Homo sapiens: one gene and its partners. The protein of the gene in region 1 purifies or fractionates together with the protein of each later gene. This does not show direct contact. Each region holds a gene or a part of one and is shown in the gene's direction. Other genes may lie near its edges.

The links.
Region 2: the proteins of LOXL3 (region 1) and EDEM1 purify together in Homo sapiens (affinity purification with mass spectrometry; 2 studies listed by BioGRID and IntAct, with this or other methods). This does not show direct contact.
Region 3: the proteins of LOXL3 (region 1) and MSI2 purify together in Homo sapiens (affinity purification with mass spectrometry, with the first as the bait; one large-scale study listed by BioGRID). This does not show direct contact.
Region 4: the proteins of LOXL3 (region 1) and POGLUT2 purify together in Homo sapiens (affinity purification with mass spectrometry, with the first as the bait; one large-scale study listed by BioGRID). This does not show direct contact.
Region 5: the proteins of LOXL3 (region 1) and MSI1 purify together in Homo sapiens (affinity purification with mass spectrometry; 2 studies listed by BioGRID and IntAct, with this or other methods). This does not show direct contact.
Region 6: the proteins of LOXL3 (region 1) and HSPG2 purify together in Homo sapiens (affinity purification with mass spectrometry; one large-scale study listed by BioGRID and IntAct). This does not show direct contact.
Region 7: the proteins of LOXL3 (region 1) and SETX purify together in Homo sapiens (affinity purification with mass spectrometry; one large-scale study listed by BioGRID and IntAct). This does not show direct contact.

Annotation. Positions count from the first base shown.
Region 1 is NC_000002.12:74,534,337-74,537,010, reverse strand, and holds part of LOXL3 (lysyl oxidase homolog 3 isoform 1 precursor), read left to right. Parts: intron 1-82; coding exon 83-302; intron 303-539; coding exon 540-720; intron 721-860; coding exon 861-1,015; intron 1,016-1,255; coding exon 1,256-1,423; intron 1,424-1,556; coding exon 1,557-1,719; intron 1,720-2,236; coding exon 2,237-2,480; intron 2,481-2,579; coding exon 2,580-2,674. UniProt on the Homo sapiens protein: Protein-lysine 6-oxidase that mediates the oxidation of peptidyl lysine residues to allysine in target proteins.
Region 2 is NC_000003.12:5,194,167-5,197,748, forward strand, and holds part of EDEM1 (ER degradation-enhancing alpha-mannosidase-like protein 1), read left to right. Parts: exon of another isoform or gene 1-799; intron 800-1,042; coding exon 1,043-1,115; intron 1,116-3,582. UniProt on the Homo sapiens protein: Extracts misfolded glycoproteins, but not glycoproteins undergoing productive folding, from the calnexin cycle.
Region 3 is NC_000017.11:57,672,466-57,676,047, forward strand, and holds part of MSI2 (RNA-binding protein Musashi homolog 2), read left to right. Parts: intron 1-2,452; coding exon of another isoform or gene 2,453-2,506; coding exon 2,507-2,661; intron 2,662-3,582.
Region 4 is NC_000013.11:102,788,926-102,792,507, reverse strand, and holds part of POGLUT2 (protein O-glucosyltransferase 2 isoform 1 precursor), read left to right. Parts: intron 1-371; exon of another isoform or gene 372-499; coding exon of another isoform or gene 500-514; intron 515-1,077; coding exon 1,078-1,250; intron 1,251-1,369; coding exon 1,370-1,607; intron 1,608-3,286; coding exon 3,287-3,496; intron 3,497-3,582. UniProt on the Homo sapiens protein: Protein glucosyltransferase that catalyzes the transfer of glucose from UDP-glucose to a serine residue within the consensus sequence peptide C-X-N-T-X-G-S-F-X-C. Can also catalyze the transfer of xylose from UDP-xylose but less efficiently.
Region 5 is NC_000012.12:120,342,998-120,345,164, reverse strand, and holds part of MSI1 (RNA-binding protein Musashi homolog 1), read left to right. Parts: intron 1-2,059; 3' UTR 2,060-2,167. UniProt on the Homo sapiens protein: RNA binding protein that regulates the expression of target mRNAs at the translation level. Regulates expression of the NOTCH1 antagonist NUMB.
Region 6 is NC_000001.11:21,853,735-21,857,316, reverse strand, and holds part of HSPG2 (basement membrane-specific heparan sulfate proteoglycan core protein isoform b precursor), read left to right. Parts: coding exon 1-32; intron 33-121; coding exon 122-302; intron 303-1,404; coding exon 1,405-1,530; intron 1,531-1,641; coding exon 1,642-1,794; intron 1,795-1,870; coding exon 1,871-2,013; intron 2,014-2,333; coding exon 2,334-2,469; intron 2,470-2,551; coding exon 2,552-2,706; intron 2,707-2,973; coding exon 2,974-3,124; intron 3,125-3,582. UniProt on the Homo sapiens protein: Integral component of basement membranes. Component of the glomerular basement membrane (GBM), responsible for the fixed negative electrostatic membrane charge, and which provides a barrier which is both size- and charge-selective.
Region 7 is NC_000009.12:132,344,955-132,348,536, reverse strand, and holds part of SETX (probable helicase senataxin), read left to right. Parts: intron 1-2,065; coding exon 2,066-2,276; intron 2,277-3,582. UniProt on the Homo sapiens protein: Probable RNA/DNA helicase involved in diverse aspects of RNA metabolism and genomic integrity.

The DNA of each region.
Region 1 (2,674 bases):
GGCATGAAGTGGGAGGATGTTTGTGGGGCCAAGAGGCAGGAGCATTGTTTTACCCTACTGCACCTCACTCCTGTCCCCCTAGGCTGCTAGCCCAACGGCAGCAACACTCCTTTGGTCTGCATGGGGTGGCGTGCGTGGGCACGGAGGCCCACCTCTCCCTCTGTTCCCTGGAGTTCTATCGTGCCAATGACACCGCCAGGTGCCCTGGGGGGGGCCCTGCAGTGGTGAGCTGTGTGCCAGGCCCTGTCTACGCGGCATCCAGTGGCCAGAAGAAGCAACAACAGTCGAAGCCTCAGGGGGAGGTGTGTGAGACAGTGATTATGACCTTTCCCACCCCAGGTGGAGAACCCCTAGCCTGGCAACCCCAGACTAAGCACAGCCCTGACCTTTGAGGACAGAGAGGAGCCTTCCAGGGGGTGGGCCACAGACCTGATACCACCCACTCCCTTCCACCAAAGTCTCACTCATCTCCCAGGTCTGCTTAGCCCTCCGTGCAGATGTTGCCATTTGCCTCTGTTGGGCACTTCTCTCTTCTATAGGCCCGTGTCCGTCTAAAGGGCGGCGCCCACCCTGGAGAGGGCCGGGTAGAAGTCCTGAAGGCCAGCACATGGGGCACAGTCTGTGACCGCAAGTGGGACCTGCATGCAGCCAGCGTGGTGTGTCGGGAGCTGGGCTTCGGGAGTGCTCGAGAAGCTCTGAGTGGCGCTCGCATGGGGCAGGGTGAGGTGGCATGGAGGTGGGAGGGAGAGGGAAGGAGGTACATGCTCCTGGGGGGCATATTCCTTCGGAAGGTTAGGTGTCCCCTGGGCAGACAATATATGCTTAATTACAACTTCCTGATCTTTGCCATCTGGCCCTAGGCATGGGTGCTATCCACCTGAGTGAAGTTCGCTGCTCTGGACAGGAGCTCTCCCTCTGGAAGTGCCCCCACAAGAACATCACAGCTGAGGATTGTTCACATAGCCAGGATGCCGGGGTCCGGTGCAACCTACCTTACACTGGGGCAGAGACCAGGGTCAGTCATCCTCTCTACCTTGGTTGAGGTCTCTTTCATCCTATCCAGGTCTGGTCTCCAATCTACAGTCCAATGGCCCCCAGCCCATTGCCCCAGGCCCCTGCCCTCCTGCAGCTCCCACCTGACCCATCACTTGCTAGCCCATTATGTGCCTGAGTCACGCTTCAGCCACATCTGTTAGAGACTCCCACTACCTCACCCCAAAGCTTTCTCCAGCGCTTCCATTCTGTGTCACTACAGATCCGACTCAGTGGGGGCCGCAGCCAACATGAGGGGCGAGTCGAGGTGCAAATAGGGGGACCTGGGCCCCTTCGCTGGGGCCTCATCTGTGGGGATGACTGGGGGACCCTGGAGGCCATGGTGGCCTGTAGGCAACTGGGTCTGGGCTACGCCAACCACGGCCTGCAGGTGAGTGGGAAGGAAAGGGGAGCCGAGGCTGTTGTCTCAAAGCCTGTGTTTTGGGCAGAGGGCTGAGGAATGAGTCCCTTGGCCCAAGATGCTGGATCCTGGGCCTTACAGAAACATCTGCATATGTCCCCAGGAGACCTGGTACTGGGACTCTGGGAATATAACAGAGGTGGTGATGAGTGGAGTGCGCTGCACAGGGACTGAGCTGTCCCTGGATCAGTGTGCCCATCATGGCACCCACATCACCTGCAAGAGGACAGGGACCCGCTTCACTGCTGGAGTCATCTGTTCTGAGAGTGAGTGAAGGAGGGGGTGATGCATGCCAGGGAAGGGAGTGTCTGGGCCACCCGTTTGCAGGGAAAGGGGGCTGTAATCTGGAGGGGCACTTCTTCCCCATAAAAGAGCCAGTTTCGCCGGGTGCAGTGGCTCACGCCTGTAATCCCAGCACTTTAGGAGGCCAAGGCGGATGGATCACGAGGTCAGGAATTCAAGACCAGCCTGACCAAGATGGTGAAACCCTGTCTCTACTAAAACTACAAAAATTAGCCAGGCGCAGTGGCAGGCGCCTATAATCCCAGCTACTCGGGAGGCTGAGGCAGGAGAATCACTTGAACCCAGGTGGCAGAGGTTGCAGTGAGCCAAGATCACGCCGCTGCATTCCAGCCTCGGCAACAGAGTGAGACTCCATCTCAAACAAACAAACAAACAAAAACAAAAACAAAAAACTAGTCTTACACACTAGGGAGGGATGGAAGCACCCCTCTCTGTGAAGTCAGCAGTGACTTCTAACACCCCCTTCCTTTCTTGGTGCAGCTGCATCAGATCTGTTGCTGCACTCAGCACTGGTGCAGGAGACCGCCTACATCGAAGACCGGCCCCTGCATATGTTGTACTGTGCTGCGGAAGAGAACTGCCTGGCCAGCTCAGCCCGCTCAGCCAACTGGCCCTATGGTCACCGGCGTCTGCTCCGATTCTCCTCCCAGATCCACAACCTGGGACGAGCTGACTTCAGGCCCAAGGCTGGGCGCCACTCCTGGGTGTGGCACGAGTGCCATGGGTGAGAGGGTAGGGAGTCAAGTAGAAGGGCAAGACCACGGGGGATGGGGCAAACCTTCTGGGGGCAGAGAAGGAAACAGAAGTTCCCTTCTCCCCACAGGCATTACCACAGCATGGACATCTTCACTCACTATGATATCCTCACCCCAAATGGCACCAAGGTGGCTGAGGGCCACAAAGCTAGTTTCTGTCTCG
Region 2 (3,582 bases), on another chromosome or scaffold:
ATGATGGAAGACTGCAGATATCAATGCATCTTGCTGGAAATAAAACTGGAGCTTTTTTGCTTTGGTTGCTAATAAAATCTTTAAACAGTTGTCTTATGTCTTCTCTTACTATCATTTTTTCCAAGCTTCTGCACTTATTTTCTGGATTTTTGGGAATGGGACAAATAAATAAATGAAGTCCCCAGAATTTCTCAAACTGTCCTTTATTTTACTAGTTCTTCATCCCTATTCTCCCAGATGTATTAGTTTTTTTGTTGTTGACTTTTTTGTAAAGTGTTACAAAGACATACCACAGTGCCTGAGGAGCTTCACCCTTGTCATCCTGAAGTTGGTTTCTTAAGGTTGTTTCAGAATGGAAAATTGGTGTAGATTATGGGGTGAGAGGTGTGTGGCAGAAACGTTTATGTAGCTCCAGTCAAGAAGTGAGAAAGGCCTCAATTCCTGCCTAGGTTCATGTTAAATGATATCTCAGAATTAACGGAAATAATCAAGACCCTTTGGATGAGTTATTAATGAAGAAATGGTGTAAAGAAGTTAATTTATACCCCCAACCATAGGGCAGATGAGTAATATTGACACTGTCAATTAATGTATTTACTTCTTTTTGTGTGTAATATAGGCTGTGGTGTCTAATTTCTGTATTAAAGTATTACAGGTGGGTCGTATGACAAGGGCTCTTCTTTAGTTCCTAATGATTGTGAAATCAGAGCTTTTTAAAGTTGGACAGGACCAAGGAGATTGTCTATGGTGATAAACCTGAATCTCAGAGAGGAGATGACTCACTGCCTCCTGACTTCCTGTGAGCATTCTTTCCACTCTGGTACAAGTGTGTCTCCACAGTTCTGTGACTTGATTCTACTTATGGACACCATAGAAAGTGTTACTTTGGGGGTAGAAAGACCTTTGCTGTATTAATTCACCCATAATTAGTTCCTGAATAAATAAGAGTTGCTGGCAATTATAGTTTCTGATGGGTGTTTACTTTTATTGTCTTCTCTTTTGAAATAAAGTCTTTTTGTTGAATTTTAATTTTCTTTTTCAGTTCAAATCTGAACATCAATGATGTACTAGGGAACTACTCATTGACTCTTGTTGATGCATTGGATACACTTGCAGTAAGTGTTCACCTTTTTTTAAAAAAATGAATTAAGATGTTTTAGAGTTGATTATCCCTAGTTCCCTCCAGCAGTGGGAATTCCAGGGAGCCTGATAAGTCAAAATGTATCATTAGCTTTGATAACTGTTATTTATTTTAATGACCTTAATGGGGAGAACAAGAAAAGTGTTGAAGGTTAAATGAGGGGAAATGTGATTCCATTAAAAAAAGGAGAAGGAATGTACGATTGATTTTAGGGAACCTATTTTTTTTTAACCAGTTTCTATCTTATTCCCTAAAAGAACCCATAATGAAGCTCATTAATATTGATAATTATAGTCGTTGCTATTCCAGGAGTAAAAGAGAGAAGATCTAAGGGTTGGCAGGTACCCTGAAATGTCATCTAGCCACTGGCTCCCCCAGGAGCAAGTTGGAGCCCTAGCGCCCATCCTTATGTGGGGCTCCCTAGAAACCCTTCTCTTTTATTTGCCACTTCCTGTTTTGTGGACACTCCATGCCTGAGCTGCCAACGTGGGTGCTGGCATTACTGCCTCATCCTGTGGTTTTGCTCATTGACTCTGGAGAACTAGAGGCCTTTGAGCAGATATGCAGAAGCACCTTGAAGGCAGTGTGGCACTCAGTACATGGTGCCATGTCTGTGTGCTTCATCTGCTTCACCTTTTGCCATTAAAGCAGTTTCCAGGGGACTGTATTCCAGCATAGTGTTGTTTTAAAATCTTCTTAGTTAAGGTGATTTTTACAACCTCTTTGCTTTCCTTCATTGTCCAGCAAGTCTTTACCATGAGAAATATCTTATTGCAGTCTAGCCCAAATGTTGTACTTTTATTTATTCTTGTTTCTTTTAACATGCCATAGAAGAGTTTAAAGCTGTCTGTTAGGAGATAGAATTGGGGCCGGGCGCAGTGGCTCACGCCTGTAATCCCAGCACTTAGGGCGGTTGAGGTGGGAGGATCAGCTGAGGTCAGGAGTTTGAGACCAGCCTGACCAACATGGTGAAACCCCTTCTCTACTAAAAGTACAAAAATTAGCTGGGCATGGTGGCGGGCGCCTGTGGTCCCAGCTCTTCAAGAGGCTGAGGCAGGAGAAATGCTTGAACCCAGGAGTCAGAGGTTGCAGTCAGCTGAGATTGCGCCACTGCACTGTAGCCTGGGCAACAGAGTGAGACTCCATCTCTGGAGACACACACACACACACACACACAAGAATTGGGTAATGTGCTAGCCAAGTTTGCATTATGATTGTCTAGTATCTTGCTAGTAGTAGAATTACCAGAACTTGGAAAGAGCTTGAGAGATCATTCTACGTCCTCATTTTATAAATAAGTAGTAGAAATAGGACTAGGCCCTTGGTCTAATAGGAAATCTGGGGTACTGATTTAGTATAATTTAAATTACAAAGCAACTTAGTTTCCCAATATCTCCTTCTGAAGTTATTGCTGCTCTGTTTCAGTCATTTACCATCACTGATCAAAATGTGCCCAGACAAGTATGTTCGACCTTAGAGCTAATTTGTTGATGATACCAGAGGCTGACTCAGCCTACAAGTGTTGCTTAAAGGAAACGTCCTAAGACTCAATGTATAGCTCATGAAAGCCTACTCCTTGTCCCTGAGAGCTTTGTCATCGTCGTCGTCTTTTCTTTTCTTTTCTTTTCTTTTTTTTTTTTTTGAGAGAGTCTCGCTCTGCCGCCAGGCTGGAGTGCTGTGGCGTGATCTTGGCTCACTTCAACCTTCAGCTCCTGGGTTCGAGTGATTCGCCTGCCTCAGCCTCCCGAGTAGCTGGCTTTTTTTTTTTTTTTTTTCCCCATTTTGTTTTTTTATCCCTCCATCTTGCCTGCTATTCTGTTGTTCACCATACTCTCCCCCACACTTAATGGTGTCTGGTGCACAGTAGCAGTGCAAATGTTTGTTCAAAAAATGAATTCTGACTAATGAAGCATTTCCCAACACAGATTCCAAAGATACTTACTCCCTGAAAGAAGAGTTCTGTTTCTAAATGAACTTGAGAAATTCCGTATGTCTGGTCCCACTATTAGAGAGCCACAGTGCCCATCAGCATTTTAAAGACTCTGAGAAGTCCTACAGTCAAACAAACAAACCCATTTAGCTCCTCTGTCCCATTCAGCCATTTTCAAACATTAGTGTGATTTCAGAACATAGTCACTCAGGATTCTATAGCTATCTGACCATAATGATAAACTACAATAAGTAAGAGCTGTTGACTTCCTTCACCTTCCTCACTTGATTTGAGCTCCTGTCAGCACCTGCAGCTTCACCAGATATTGTTGCTGGTAAACATCTGTAAGGAAACAGACTCATCTCTGTGGTTTTCATTGTAGAATATCCGGCCTTTAGTGCTTCAGGCTTATTTTTCAGGTGTTACTTCTGTTGAAGTTTTCCTTTTCTTTTGCTAACATTTAAACAGGCTTTAACAGATGTGCTAGGGAAACACTGTGAAGATAGCAGTC
Region 3 (3,582 bases), on another chromosome or scaffold:
GCTACATCCTGTCTCCGAGGCTGCTTCTGCTGGCTAGATTAGTCTCTAGGTGGCTCTCCTGCTGGAAGAAACGGAAACCTAAACCTGCCTCTCCCCACCCATTAGTTAGGTGGGCCTGCCCAACACCTTCCTGGGTTCACATCCGGCCAGACAAGAAAGAAGCCAAAAAACTTTCCGTCTACCACTGCGCCTCCTCATGCCCACCCCATCCTATTAGCCTAAAATGGAACGGGCTAATTAGTTTATTTGTATAGGGAGGGGTTTCAGCTGCCTGGACAAAACCAGGAGTCCACTGTCCAAGCTTCTTCTGTTTTCCTGAGCTCAGAAGAAAAAAAGTGTGTTAGACTAAGATAATACCGCCTTTTGAATATCTCGGCTTCATATTTGCCTCCATGAGTGAGAGGGCCAAGTGTTATCTGCAAGTTGAATCTTCTATATTCAAAAATCTCCATCCCTTTTTTCTGCCAGCGCATTCCCAGATCAGCCGTTCACTTGCTCTAAGCCTCTATAATTTATTTTTTTCTTTTCTCTTTAACCTGCTCTTTCCATTGGCCAGTTTATTCATTTCTCAGCTACAGCTTCAGAGGGGCTCACCTTCGGGCTTCCCGCCCCAAGGGCATCTGGAGGCTTCAGTTCTGTTTTCTCTGCTGAGTCAGGAGCCAGGCCCAGCTTGATTTGGTCTCCCGTGTATCTTTGTGTCTCTGTCTCAGTCTCCTGCTAGTGTGCCTTGGGTGCCTCATCAATCTCTTCCCATCCCTGTGACAAGTGGGTGAAAATCAATCCACTTCTGGCTCTTCCAGGCCCACCAGAACTGAGGGCCTCAAATCACAGGCCCCTGGGAAAGGGAGGGGCCAAAGCCAGGAGTGACCCCACCTGCATCGATGTTCTTTGCCTCTGCCATTGAAGGCAACTGGTCATAGGGCAGAGGGGGAGAAGCCAAGGGAGGCAGAAGGGAGAAGTGATTGTTGCAAGGAGCAGCCCTCTGGAGCCAAAGATGTGAAAGTGTGACTCTCAGAATGTCTGGTTCTTTAAGACGGGTTAGCCGTAGCCCAAAGGTAGCCAGCCCAGACTCACCTTGAGGCTTAAAAATCAGTAAGAACTTCCTTTAACAATTAAAAAAATATTGTTTTCCATTTTGGAAAAGAAAATAAAGTTTAAACTACTAAGGAGAAATAAAGGTGAGACAAAATTAACCTGGTTAACTGGTTGACAGGCTGCGGCCCTCATTAGGGTCAGAATGATGGGATTGGGGGGGCCGAGGCAGTGTCACCTTCCGCTGCCCCCCGATCTGCAACCCCACCACTCTCTGGATTTGTGCGTGTCAAGTCCACTCTCTCTGTAGCAAAGGTACATCCTGAGCCTGCTGTTCTCACTCTGGAGTTGACATTGCAGGATAACCAAGAGAAAGCAGGTGTTTTGGTCAGCTATGGTTTAGCTATGAATTGGTTCAGTCGGTATGTTCTGCATTCATACTTCTTTGTCTTTTTTTTTTTTAAACAAAAGGAAAAAAAGTTTAAATCCCCCCTTTCCTTCTCCTGCAGGAGGTGAGTGTGTGGGTGTCCTGTAGAACCATTGGCTTCCACCCCAGCTCTGGCCCCAGCCTCCAGGTTTACCATTCCCCCCCATCCCTCCCTCCATCCCCTTCTCTCCACCCCAAAAGGAAACTCTCTGCCGCCATCATTACTGTTATGTCAAGATGCCCAAACTCTCCATAACATATCCCATCCTCCGACCACGTTCAGTATTGATGACTTTCATTCAGTGTTATGAATGGGAAGGGCGGGAAGGGAGGGAGTAGCCAGTGGGGAGGGGCGGGTGGTGGGGGTGGGATGGAGAATGGAGATCTTTTTTGTCTTTTTTAAAAAAAAAAACAAAACAAATTTGTCATTTAATGGATCCAAAAACCAAAAAGAAAAAGTGAAACACACACACAAAAAAAGATCAAAAATCCCCTCTGCAAAGATTTTTTTTTTCCTGGACACAAATTGCTTTGTTTCCTGTCACGTTTTAATATCAATATTAACACAATGTGTAGTCTAAAACTAGTTCCTTTGTAGTTTGCATGGGATGTGAATGCTGTCTCAACGTGCCCAGATCTAGAAGACTGCATGAGCATCAATTCAGATGTGAAAAAAAAACTCTCTCTCTCTCTCTCTCTCTTCCATATATATCTCTATTTCTATTGTGATAATTTGGTGGGCAGTGAAGCACCTCCGGTTGGTTGCCGTAGTGTGTTGAATGATTGTTTTTTTATTCTCTATATTTTTGGAGCTCCAAGCTTCTTAGTAGTAGCCTGGGCTGAGTATTCTTGAGTCCCTGCTGATGTTTTCGCATGGCCTTGGTTGAGTGTTAGAAGTTGGGCCTCAGCTGTTTTTCTCAAGTGTTTGGCTTGTAATGACCGGTGCATGCCTGGCTTCTGGCCTCATACCCAGCTCTATTCTCTGCACACCAGTCCTGAATAGCTACAGTGCTCAACCGAATTTTGGCGCGCCCGCTTCCCCGGCAGGCTCCAACCCGGCGCGGCCCGGAGGCTTCCCGGGGGCCAACAGCCCAGGACCTGTCGCCGATCTCTACGGCCCTGCCAGCCAGGACTCCGGAGTGGGGAATTACATAAGTGCGGCCAGCCCACAGCCGGGCTCGGGCTTCGGCCACGGCATAGCTGTAAGTACCTGCCTTCCCCTGCCCTCCTGCCTCCTCCTTCCTGACCAGCTCCTTGTGGCCTGTGGGTGTGCCAGGAAAGCCCAACATCGGGGGCAGAGGAGAGGACAGAGGGTCCCCATCAACATCACACCAGCTCCTGAGGGCTGAAGCCTCCGTCGTCTTAGAGGTGTCCTGGGTGCCTCTCGTGTGGCTGTGTGATGGAGCAGAAGGAGCATGGGCAGGTCCGGTTCAGATCACCACTCCATCACCTTCACACAGTGCATCCTTGAGCCACTTCGATAACCCGTCTGAATCTCATTTCCCTGGCTGCAAAACCAGAATCTCTATGCTTTCCTCAAAAGATTGTGGGAGGATTATTCGAAACAGTGTCCCACGCTGGCACGTAATAGGGCCTCAGTAGTGGCCACCTTCCTTGATCCCCGCTTTCTGGACACTGTCATGTGGGCTGGGACCTGAGAGCTGGGAAATGTCCCAGCTCCCCACCAGAGTAGCAGCCTTAGTCAATAGAGCCCCTGATCTAAGGTCCAGTGGCAGCGCTGGAGCCCGGGAGGTGGTGTGGGGATCCAAGCCCTCTCCCAGGCAGTTTCCTTTGCTAATGTTTCTTACAGTTTCCAGGTTCCAAGTAAGTTCCCATTTGCGTTCCTTAGCTGCAGCCTCCACCCCTTGAAGGCCAGATGCATTTGATATTTGTAATGCTCTGTGGTTCTATAATCTGACTAATCCAGGCAATGGAAATTTGCTTAACAGATTTGCATGCTGTTTTCAGATTGTGTTGTTCTTCTCCCTCCCGGTGTGTGTGAGCATGAATGTGCCTGAGCCCACTTGCTCGCTGTCCCTTCCATTTTGGAAACAGAAAATTGGCCAACCTTTGCCCTAGCCAGCCTCAGCATTTTGGAGGCAGTTTGGTTTTGAGCTAAGATG
Region 4 (3,582 bases), on another chromosome or scaffold:
GGATTTAAGACTTCAGCATATCTTTTGCAGGGACACAATATTTTATAGAGGAAAGAAAAATGCCTTATCATAAAATTATTTTGGTACTAAACTAACTCTGAGTCCAAAGATGACTTGCCTTGTACTGAATCCCATTCCTTGGGATAATGGGCTTTTGTTGGGTTCTAGTGGAATGGTTTGAAAGTAATGTTAAAATGGTGGATGTGAAAGACTCTACCAACATTTTTACCAAATGTATATTTATTTGTAATCTATTATATTTATTTGTTGAATAATTTGCATGTATATCTTGATTAAACTACTCATGGAAAATCATAATGCCTTTTTTTCAAGATTTCAAAGCACTTACAGTCTGTTAATTCTGAATGTAGGTAGTTATATAGCATCAATATTAAGCCTCCTTTAAACTAAGACATCAGAGTACCGTCATACTTCTCTTGCTCCTCTTTGTCAATCCATGGGAAAATGAGAATGTTCTTCAGGACTTCGGTTTCTCAAGATGCTTCTCAGACTGGTCAGTGCTTTTCTGGCCTTAAAAATGTATATCTGTTGTTTTGTAAATACTCTAAACATTTTCTGTGACTAGATAAAACATATCCTCTTTACATATTCATGCCATTTGCCAGTAGAGGAAGGAAGCATAGCTTGAAACTTACTACGTTGCTGTTGGTGTTGGGCTTCCTGAGTTCAAATCCTGGTCCCACCACCTACCTGGTGTATGTTTTTTAAAATGGAACCATCTGGCTCACTAGCAGGAAACTAGGGTTAGAGTCCCAAGTGCTATTTTTTAAATTATTTTCCAATAATTCTCCTTCTCTTTGATCATCTTAGAGGCTGTTCGCAGTATTAGAACAGAGATTACTTTTGCAGTTTCATCCCTTTCATAGGGAGCATAGAATACTTATACATGTGACCATATTCTGAAACATTGCCCACTATTCAAACCAAGGTAATTATTATTACCTGAAACATGTAACATTGGCCTTTCATTAATGCAATTTCAAATTTAAATTGATAAATACAATGTATTATCCAATGCAGGAAATGTGAATAAGCTCCTCGTTTTGTTTTTTCTAGGTGAAGATGCCAGATGTGGAGCTCTTTGTTAATTTGGGAGACTGGCCTTTGGAAAAAAAGAAATCCAATTCAAACATCCATCCGATCTTTTCCTGGTGTGGCTCCACAGATTCCAAGGATATCGTGATGCCTACGTACGATTTGACTGATTCTGTTCTGGAAACCATGGGCCGGTGAGAGATAAGTCAGGGTTGGCCCAGAGCCTTGGTTTTCTTTCTTTGGTGAGTTCTTTTGCAACAACCTTTGTGATATGATGATTTGGGAGGAAAATCTGTTGCACTTTGTCTTCTAGGGTAAGTCTGGATATGATGTCCGTGCAAGCTAACACGGGTCCTCCCTGGGAAAGCAAAAATTCCACTGCCGTCTGGAGAGGGCGAGACAGCCGCAAAGAGAGACTCGAGCTGGTTAAACTCAGTAGAAAACACCCAGAACTCATAGACGCTGCTTTCACCAACTTTTTCTTCTTTAAACACGATGAAAACCTGTATGGTCCCATTGTGAAACATATTTCATTTTTTGATTTCTTCAAGGTATGACTTAATCAGTAGCTAATCTTTTTTGTTTTTCTAATGTATTTGTACATAGTGCTTTGGGAAGGGAAATTAAGGCCTGCAAATTTCAAGAGGTGGGAGAAGTTAGCACAAAATTGAGCGAATATTGAGACATGGGGGTGCTGGGGACTGTTTTGGCAACCAGGGTCTGCCCTCACTGCCCAGTCTTGATATTAAATGCGCATCAAGGGAGTTTGGAGCCTGGATAGAGCTATAATTTTTTTCCAGCTAACCCTTGAGATAAGCACATGTCACCTCCAAATATGTTTTTATTAATACTTACATGTAAGTCATTTTACAAATACTTTTTCCCAGAGCCATGTTATCACAACAGAATAAGGAAGATATAAACTACTTGTTTCTTACCAGGCCTTCTGGTGGGGAATGACGTGAAACTCATCCAAATGTTCTGTCTGGGAATTAGGGTTTGCTTTCTCTGTCTAGAATGTGGATTCCGCATGGTTCCTGGGGAGTAGTCCTTTTTCTAACAACTCCTTTTATAAGGCAGTGGGCACCACCCTGCTCTTTAGACCATGGAGTTGTTTCTGAAGTCCCCCATGGTAGAGAGAGAGGTGGGAAAAAGGTCATCATCTGTCCTCTGTATGTGGGAAGACAAGTGATTAACGAGTTCTGTCTGCCCTGTAGATGACCAAATTTTCTTTTGATGGGTTTTGTTGAGGCAGGTTGACCTAAATGTTAACCTTGTTCAATGTTAAAGTTGAATTGTCAGTATTTTTCTATATGCATATCCCAAAGATTTTTGAAAGAAATGATTATAACCAAAGTGAAAGGATACTAGCCAACCTTCCTCAGTGGAGGGGTGCTCCATCCTGCCTTGGCTTTATTCCTGCCTGTTGAATTTTCTGCAACTAAAGATGATAGATTACCACAGTTCTATGAATATTTTTATTCATAGGTGTTCTTGCTCCAGAGCTTGCTAATTTCTTTAAGACATATGTCTGGGTGTTTAAAAAATACGGTTAGCCAGGCGTGATGGCTCACGCCTGTAATCCTAGCACTTTGGGAGGCTGAGGCAGGCAGATCACCTGAGTTCCAGGGTTCGAGACCAGCCTGGCCAACATGGTGAAACCGCATCTCTACTAAAAATACAAAAATTAGCTGGGCGTGGTGGTGCGTGCCTCTAATGCCAGCGACTGGGGATGCTGAGGCACAAGAATCACTTGATCCCAGGAGGTGGAAGTTGCAGTGAGCTGAGATCACGCCACTACACTCCAGCCTGAGTGACAGAGCAAGACTCTGTCTCAAAATAAATACATAAATAATACGGTTAACATGGCTCAGAATATGCCATCATTAGGGGCACATTTGCAATCAATAAAGTAGCAGGAGAATTACAAAAAGTCACAAATGAATCCATCCTTCCTTATGTTGCAGCCTTAGGACAGCAGTATGATTGTATTCGCTGCTTCAACACTAGATTTGTATCCTTTGTAAAATTGAGAAGCACATCAAAATGAGCATTTAGCTCTAGATCAACCTGTTGTTTAATAACACTTACTAAACGGCAAAGGCAGAGCGTGGAAGCTGACCAAATTGTGTCTGAGGATTGCAAAGGTTTATGTGTGGGATGGGAAGGAGAATAGAGTGGAGAAAAGGAGATTTAATAGAGGTTCTTAGACTTTACCATTGTTTTGCAGCATAAGTATCAAATAAATATCGATGGCACTGTAGCAGCTTATCGCCTGCCATATTTGCTAGTTGGTGACAGTGTTGTGCTGAAGCAGGATTCCATCTACTATGAACATTTTTACAATGAGCTGCAGCCCTGGAAACACTACATTCCAGTTAAGAGCAACCTGAGCGATCTGCTAGAAAAACTTAAATGGGCGAAAGATCACGATGAAGAGGTAAGGTTAGTCCCCTTGAAGGCTTATTTCCACTTGTTTCCCAATATCATGGGTCCTTTTGAAATGTATTGTACCTGGAGAGCATC
Region 5 (2,167 bases), on another chromosome or scaffold:
GCCCAGGCTGGTCTCAAACTCCTGGGCTCAAGGGATCCTCCTGCCCTGGTCCCCCAAAGTGCTGGGATTACAGGTGTGAGCCACCAGCGCAGGCCACAAAGATTTTTTAAGATCGTTTATTATTATTACTATTATTTTATTTTATTTTTGTAGATGGAGTCTCGCTCTGTCACCCAGGCTGGAGTGCAGTGGCGCAATCTTGGCTCACTGCAAACTCGTCCCCTGGGTTCAAGCAATTCTCGTGTCTCAGCCTCCCGAGTAGCTGGGATTACAGGCATGTGCTACCGCACCCAGCTAATTTTGGTATTTTTTTTGTTTTTAGCAGAGACGAGTTTTGCCATGTTGGCCAGGCTGGTCTCAAACTCCTGGCCTCAAGTGATCCATCTGCCTCGGCCTCCCAAAGTGCTGGGATTACAGGGGTGAGCCACCGTGCCCAGCCCTATTATTATTATTTTTAATAGAGATGTGGTCTCACTGCCACCCAGGCTGGAGTGCAGTGTGCAATCACAGCTCGCTGCAGCCTGGAACTCCTAGGCTCAAGCCATCCTCCACCTCAGCCTCCCAAGTAGCGGGGACCACAAGAGCATGCCACCATGCCTGGCTAAGTTTTTAAAAAATTTTTTTGTAGAGATGGGGTCTCATTATGTGGCCCAGGTTGGTCTTGAACTCCTGGCTCAAACGATCTTCCTCTGCCTTGGCCTCCCAAAGTGCTGGGATTTCAGGCATGAGCCACCGGGCCCAGCCACAAAGATTTTTTAAGTTGAACACTGCCCAGCATTGATCAAGATATGGGAGAAGCAAGTAAGTACAGTGGCTCAGGGGTTCCCGGGGCAGTCTGGCAGTGTTTGTCCCAGTTTCAAACATTCATGCCCTTGGACCCAACAATTCCACTTCTAGGCATTTATTTTTAAAACTGCAAATAACTGAAATATCCATCAAAAGGAAAGTGGTTAAACAAATTAGTGTGTGTACAGTGGTATAGTACACAGCTATCAAAACAGGATACCTTGGCCGGGCGCAGTGGCTCACGCCTATAATCCCAGCACTTTGCGGGGCCAAGGCAGGCGGATCACCTGAGGTCAGGAGTTCTAGACCAGCCTGGACAACATGGTAAAACCCCATCTCTACTAAAAATACAAAACTTGGCTGGCGTGATGGTGCGCACTTGTAATCTCAGCTACTCGGGAGGCTGAGGGACAAGAATCGCTTGAACCCAGAAAGCGAAGGCTGCAGTGAGCCGAGATCAGGCCACTGCACTCCAGCCTGGGCAACAGAGCAAGACTCCACCTCAACAAACAAAAAACAACAGGATACCTCGACTTGTGGGACTGTGTACACGGCCATCACAGTGTCTATCCAGATGGTGGGAGACTGTGAGCCCATGACATTCTGTTCATTCACCCATTCATTTATGAGCCCCATTCCAGGAAAGAGGATGAACAAGACAGACAAAGTCCTCTCTCATTTCACAGGACAAAAATCAAGTGAACATATGAGATAATTCCAGACTGTGCATGACAGGGCTATTTTAGATGTGGGGTTTAGAGAAGGTATCTCTGAGAAGGGGACATTTAAATAAATCCAGCCATTCGAAATCTGGGGAAAGAGGCATCCAACCAGGGAACAGAAAGTGCAAAGTCTGGCTGGGTGTGGTGGCTCACATTCGTAATCCCAGATCTTTGGGAGGCCAAGGCAGGAGGATGGCTTGAGGACAAGAGTTTGAGACTAGCCTGGGCAATATAGTGAATCCCCATCTCTGCTACAACAACAAAAATGAGCAGAGTGTGTTTGCTTTCACCTGTAGTCCCAGATACTACCTGTAATCCCAGAGTCTCAGGAGGCTGAGGCAGGAGGATCACTTGAGCCTAGGGAGGTTGAGGCTGCAGTGAACTATGATCGCTGTCACTGCACTCCAGCCTGGGCAACAGAGCTGGACTCTGTCTCTAAAAAAATAAGAAGAAGAAAGTAGGTAGTTTACGAACAAAGCTCTTCTGGGAGAGAACTGGGGAGGGCTGCGTGTGCTCCGGGAGCCCCCATAACCTCCTGGCTGTGTTCCCAGCGCCCCAGCCTGCAGCTGACTGAGGACCACGAGTGAGCCAGCGAGGGGGCGGGAGACCTCAGCCGCAGCCGCCGCCCCCTCCCCTGCAGCGACTCGGACCCGCTACTG
Region 6 (3,582 bases), on another chromosome or scaffold:
ACGTCACCTTCATCTGCACAGCCAAAAGCAAGGTGTGCAGGTCAGGGAGTGGGGATGGAGGAAGTCTGTCTTCTGGGGTCTCTGAGCCCCACCCATGACCCCCTTTCGCCTTGCCCTGCAGTCCCCAGCCTATACCCTGGTGTGGACCCGCCTGCACAACGGGAAACTGCCCACCCGAGCCATGGATTTCAATGGCATCCTGACCATTCGCAACGTCCAGCTGAGTGATGCAGGCACCTACGTGTGCACCGGCTCCAACATGTTTGCCATGGACCAGGGCACAGCCACTCTACATGTGCAGGGTACACCTCCCATCTATACCTGATTCTCCCCTCCTGTCTCTCCCCCATTCCCACCAGAATTAGCACAGCATTTCTTCATTCTGCTGATCATTTCTGAGCACCTGCTGCATGCCTGGTCCTGGTCTAGGCTCTGCAGAAGCAGGGGAGAGAAGCATGTACAGTATCTCGGTCCTCCTGAAGTACACGTCCTAGGCAGGGAGACCATAAGCATGGGAATAAATGAACAAGCAAGATAACTACACATGGCGATGAGTGCCAGGCTAGGAATGATGAGAAAGCAAGAAACAAGGTGGGAGAAGGCCAGGAGCGGTGGCTCACACCTGTAAGCCCAGCACTTTGGGAGGCTGAGGCAGGTGGATCACTTGAGGTCAGGAGTTCCAGACCAGCCTGGCCAACAGGTGAAACCCTGTCTCTACTAAAAATACAAAAACTAGCTGGGTGTGGTGGCAGGTGCCTATAATCCCAGCTACTCAGGAGGCTGAGGCAGGAGAATCGCTTGAACCCGGGAGGCTTAGGTTGCAGTGAGCCGAGATCGCGCCACTGCACTCCAGCCTGGGTGACAGAGCAAGAATCCATCTCAGAAAAATAAATAAAATAAAACAAGGTGGGAGAGGCAAGGGCTACTCTAGATAGGGCAGTCAGGGAGGGCCTCTCTGAGGAGGTGACACCTAAGCTGAGACCTGAAGGAAAGGTAGGCATTGAGCAAGTTAGAGAGTTGGCAGAGTGTTCTTGGCAGAGGGAGCAGCACATGGCAAGGCCCTGAGGCAGGAGCACGTTGCTATGTTTGAGGAACAGCAGAGACCACGTGGCTGGGGCTGTGGGAGGGAGGACGGGTGTGGGCAGACGGGAGAGCATGGAGTATGTGGTGGATCAGGGTAGGAATTTTGGATTTTATTCTAAAAGCAACAGGGAGTCATGGACAGGTCTCAAGGTGGGAGGTCACAAGGTCCTGTTGACATTTCCCAAGCTCCCTCTGGCTCCTGTGTGCACAGATGGCCGTGGAGGGCTAGCCTGGAAGCAGAGAAAGTAGGCAGCAGGACTGTTGTGTGAGTCAGACGACACTCCCCACCCTGAGTGCATGTTCCTTTTCCTCCCTTGTCAGCCTCGGGCACCTTGTCCGCCCCCGTGGTCTCCATCCATCCGCCACAGCTCACAGTGCAGCCCGGGCAACTGGCGGAGTTCCGCTGCAGCGCCACAGGGAGCCCCACGCCCACCCTCGAGTGGACAGGTGAGGCCGTGATGGGAATGACATTCAAGGCCTGACTCTCCTGGGTGTGGGAGGGGAGGGGCAGGACTCTGAGCAGGCTTGGTGGGTGCTGACCCCACGTCTACTCGTCAGGGGGCCCCGGCGGCCAGCTCCCTGCGAAGGCACAAATCCACGGCGGCATCCTGCGCCTGCCAGCTGTCGAGCCCACGGATCAGGCCCAGTACTTGTGCCGAGCCCACAGCAGCGCTGGGCAGCAGGTGGCCAGGGCTGTGCTCCACGTGCATGGTGAGAGGCCGGGCTCAGGGTGGGGGCCGGGAGTGTGCTCAGCCCAGGGCGTGTTCTCACAGGACTCTGTCTGCAGGGGGCGGTGGGCCCAGAGTCCAAGTGAGCCCAGAGAGGACCCAGGTCCACGCAGGCCGCACCGTCAGGCTGTACTGCAGGGCTGCAGGCGTGCCTAGCGCCACCATCACCTGGAGGAAGGAAGGGGGCAGCCTCCCACCACAGGTGAGGAGATGGGCCCACCCAGGAGGAGGAGGCCCACAGGCTCTGCAGAGAGTCCCAGCCACCTTCCCTCCCCCTTCACGCCCCACCCCACCTCCTCCTCTGTGGCTCCCTTCACCTCCAAGATGGTGGTCTCCTGCCCCTGCATCCCAGCAGGGAGCCCCTGCCGTCCTCTTGGCTGCCTGGCGTTTGTCCTCCTTCATGCCCCACTGGGCCCTAATATTGGCCCTGCACCTGCCTCTCCCTTTTATGCCCTATCTGTCCCCCTGGCCAGCCGTTGTCCAGCTGCCTCTGGGGCAGCTGACCCATCTCACCCACGGCAGGCCCGGTCAGAGCGCACAGACATCGCGACACTGCTCATCCCAGCCATCACGACTGCTGACGCCGGCTTCTACCTCTGCGTGGCCACCAGCCCTGCAGGCACTGCCCAGGCCCGGATCCAAGTGGTTGTCCTTTCAGGTACGGACTCTCTGGGAATGGAGGGGTGGGGAGGGCAAGCCAGGGCTCCCCTGGGGCCTGCTGACCCCTACTCTGGCCCCAGCCTCAGATGCCAGCCCACCGCCGGTCAAGATTGAGTCCTCATCGCCTTCTGTGACAGAAGGGCAAACACTCGACCTCAACTGTGTGGTGGCAGGGTCAGCCCATGCCCAGGTCACCTGGTACAGGCGAGGGGGTAGCCTGCCTCCCCACACCCAGGTATGTGGGCCCTGAGCCTATGGCAGGGGACCCAGGGTGCAGGGGCTGTGGCGGAGGCGGGGCCTGTACGCTGGGCGGGGGAGGCGGCACACTGCCCCACACGTTCCACCAGCAGAAGCCAGGCCTCATCTCCCTCCCTCCCAGTTTCTAGCATGGGATGGCTCGGAGCAGAGCCAGTGAGAGTTTGAATGAATCACTGAGGCTGAGGGAGTGGTGACAATAGCCCCCGTCCCTGTCCTCACGTACCTCTGGCTCCTCCTGGCCCAGGTGCACGGCTCCCGTCTGCGGCTCCCCCAGGTCTCACCAGCTGATTCTGGAGAATATGTGTGCCGTGTGGAGAATGGATCGGGCCCCAAGGAGGCCTCCATTACTGTGTCTGTGCTCCACGGCACCCATTCTGGCCCCAGCTACACCCCAGGTGAGGAGCCAGGTGTGGCTGGGCCGGGGCTGAGCCCTAGGAGCTCCCAAGGAAGATGCCTGTGGCTTCTTCAGTGGGACCAGGACAGGGGGGCATTCCAGGCAGGCTTTGACCCTTCAGCGCCTGCTCAGAGAGAGAAGGAGGTTGAGTGGACGGGAGGGAGGTTAAGGCTGGTCCAGCTTACCTGGGCTCCCTATGAGTGACTGTTTCAGAATTTGTCAGGAAGCAGCAGAATGTCCAGGTTGAATACTAAGCTGGGAGTCGGCTGACCTGGTTCAAATCCCAGATCTGCCCCTTAGCAACCTTGAACTAGCTTTTAACTTTTGGGGCCTCAGATTCATCTATGAAATGGAGCAGTACTGCCCACCTGCTTGGTCATGGTGTGGTTTTTTTATTATTTTATTTTATTTTATTTTATTTTATTTTATTTTATTTTATTTTTTTGAGAGAGAGTCTCG
Region 7 (3,582 bases), on another chromosome or scaffold:
GATCTGTTGCTTTTAGTCACATTGGTATAAAATAATTTAATGAAATAAAGTCATTGGGAGGGGATTTGTTTCATAATTTTTTGGTCAGTGCTATAATACATGCATGTATCTGAGTATCTGAATGGCCTGGGTTTTTGTTAGTGGGTTGTTTTTTTTTTGTTTTGTTTTTTTTTTGAGACAGAGTCTCACTCTCTTGTCCAGGCTGGAGTGCAGTGGCGTGATCTTGGCTCACTTCAACCTCTGCCTCCCAGGTGGGTTCAAGCGATTCTCCTGCCTCAGCCTCCCAAGTAGCTGGGACTAAAGGCACGTGCCACCACACCCGGCTAATTTTTTATTTTTAGTAGAGATGGGGTTTTACCATGTTGGCCCAGCTGGTCTCAAAACTCCTGACGTCAGGTGATCTGCCCACCTCGGCCTCCCAAAGTGCTGGGATTACAGCTGTGAGCCACTGCGCCTGGCCAGGGTTTTTTTTTTTTAATTGGTAATAATAACTTCTTTTTTTCTTTTTTTAATGGGCAAATGGCATAAACCTTTAAGGGCAAGCATATTTTCCAGTCATGATAACAAAAGTGAAAGATATAATTCTAAATATTTGGCTTTGAATATTTGGTTTATTTATTGATGAAAAACAGAACGTAGACCATAGAGATATATACAGTATATAGAGGAGAGGATGATTAGTAATGGACTTGTGTTGAGAAACGTGCACTTTATAAAGTTTTCTAATTATGAAGCTATCCAGCGTCTTTTATACCACAAGCTGCACTAAGGTAGTTAGCTATGGCTAGAACATAGAAGGGAAGACATAGAAGGGCCTCGGTTTTGCATTTGACAGAGAGGCTCCAGCTTCTCTTTTTTTTTTTTTTGAATGTAGTTGATAGGGATGTTGAGATATTTATAGAAAACTTCTACAAGAGAAGTGTTTAAGGCTGAGTGCTGTAGCTTACACCTGTAATCCCAGCACTTTGGGATGCTGAGGCAGGTGGATTACGAGGTCAGCAGTTTGAGACCAGCCTGGCCATCATGGTGAAAGTCCGTCTCTACTAAAATACAAAAATTAGCCAGGCGTGGTGGTGGGCGCCTGTAATCCCAGCTACTCAGGAGGCTGAGGCAGGAGAATCGCTTGAACCTGGGAGGCCAAGGTTGCGGTGAGCTGAGACCACGCCATTGCACTCCAGCCTGGGCGACAGCGAGATTCTGTCTCAAAAAAAAATAAAAAGTGTTTAAACATAGCATACTATTTTTTGTTTTCTTGTTTTTTTTCGTTTGTTTGGTTTTTTGTTTGAGATGGAGTTTCCCTGTTGTTGCCCAGGCTGGAGTGCAGTGGCGTGATCTTGGCTCACTGCAACCTCCGCCTCCTGGGTTCAAGCGATTCTCCTGCTTCAGCCTCCCGAATATGGGATTACAGGCATGCACCACTACGCCTGGCTATTTTTGTATTTTTAGTAGAGACGAGGTTCCTCCGTGTTGGTCAGGGTGGTTCTGAACTCCCGACCTCAGGTGATCCGCCCACCTCAGCCTCTCAAAGTGCTGGGATTACAGGCAGGAGCCAGTGTGCCTGGCCTGTTTTCTTTTTCTCTTAGAGGCAGGGTTTCCCTATGTCATCCAGACTGGAGTACAGTGGCACAATCATAGCTCACTGTAGCTTCAGATTCTTGGGCTCAAGTGATCCTTTTGCTTCAGCCTCCAGAGAAGCTAGGACTGTAGGCATGCACCACACCTAGCTAATTTTTCTATTTTTTTTTTTTTTAGTGACAGGGTCTTGCTTTGCTACCCAGGCTGGTCTCGAACTCCTGACCTGAAACAGTCCTCCTACCTCAGCCTTCCAAAATGCTGGGATTACAGCTGTGAGCCACTGTGCCTAGCCAATATCTCATACTCTGTGTACTCACTTTTCATAAAAGTGGCCACATTTGAATAGTTTTCTTTAAATCTAAAATACAAGCTCTAATACTTTACATTTCAGAATTTTTGTACTTAGGAAAAGGCTTTCTAGGTCGTCACATTCAGTGTATTTTGTTGATGATAAGACATAACGCACACTGCCCATTTTATTTTCCTCTAGGTTTTATGGGAATTAGAAACCTTACGTCTCATAAATCACTTTGAAAAATCCATGAAGGCAGAAATTGGAGATGATGATGAGTTATATATAGTAGACAATAATGGAGAGATGCCACTGTTTGACATCACTGGGCAAGACTTTGAAAATAAGCTTCGAGTTCCTCTTCTTGAAATACTGAAATATCCTTACTTGCTTCTACATGAACGTGTTAGTGAGTATCTTGATGGTTCCTCAAGTTATATCAGTTTTATTATTTTAGTACCATAAGAATTTAGGCTTATCTATATTGCAAATTTGTTTGCTAAACATATAATTAGGATATATAATTAGGACTTCATTTTTTTTCCAACGTTTTTTATTTTTTGAGTTCAAACACAAAATACCTATTTTTGGGGCACAGTTCAAACTTATCTTGTTCAGAGGGTAACTGAAGATTGTTTTTATTTTTTTTTAGAGACAGGGTCTTGCTGTGTCTCCTAGGCCGAAGTGCAGTGGCGCAGTCATGGCCCACTGCAGCCTCTACCTCCTGGGCTCAAGTAATACTCCTGCCTGAGCCTTGTGGGTAGCTGGGAGTACAGGCGTGTGCCATTGCGTCCAGCTAATTTTATGTTGTGTTTATTGTAGAGATGAAGTTTCACTGTTGCCCAGGCTGGTGTTGAACTCCTGGGCTCAAGCAGTCCTCCCACCTCAGCTTCCCAAATTGCTGGGATTATAGGCACGAGCCACTATGCCTGGCTCTCAACATTTTATTGTGAAAATTTTTTAACATAGAAAAGTAAATTATACAGTGAACATGATATACCCATCACATAGTTTATACGGTTGTTAACATTTTGCTATATTTGCTTTATTACGTATCTGTTCACCTCTTTGTTCAATTATTAATAATTTTCATTCTCGCCGGGCATGGTGGCTCACGCCTGTAATCCCATCATTTTGGGAGGCTGAGGCAGGCAGAGCACCTGAGGTCAGGAGTTCAAGACCAGCCTTGCTAACATAGTGAAACCCTGTCTCTACTAAAAATACAAAAATTAGCCAGGTGTGGTGGCAGGCACCTGTAATCCCAGCTACTCAGGAGGCTGAGGCAGGAGAATCACTTGAACCTGGAAGGCGGAGGTTGCAGTGAACCAAGATTGTGCCACTGCACTCCAGCCTGGGTGACAGACAGAGACTCTGTCTTAAAAAATAGTAATAATAATAATTTTCATTCTTGTAGTATGTCTGTGGCAGGGTTTCTCAGCCTTGCATTGGTGACATTTTGGATAATCCTTTGCTGTGGGCTGTGCCGTCCATTGTAGGATGTGTAGCAGCATCCCTGGCCTTTGTCTACTAAATGCCGCTAGCACTCCCTATCTCCTTTGTGACAACCAAAAATGTCTCCAGACATTGCTGAATACCCCTTTTGGGGGGTGAGGTATAAAATCACCCCTGGTTGGGAAATGCTATTCTGTAGTAATTTTCATTAACCACTATGGCATGGCTTATTATAGCTGTCTAGATTTTGGTTGTTGATATTT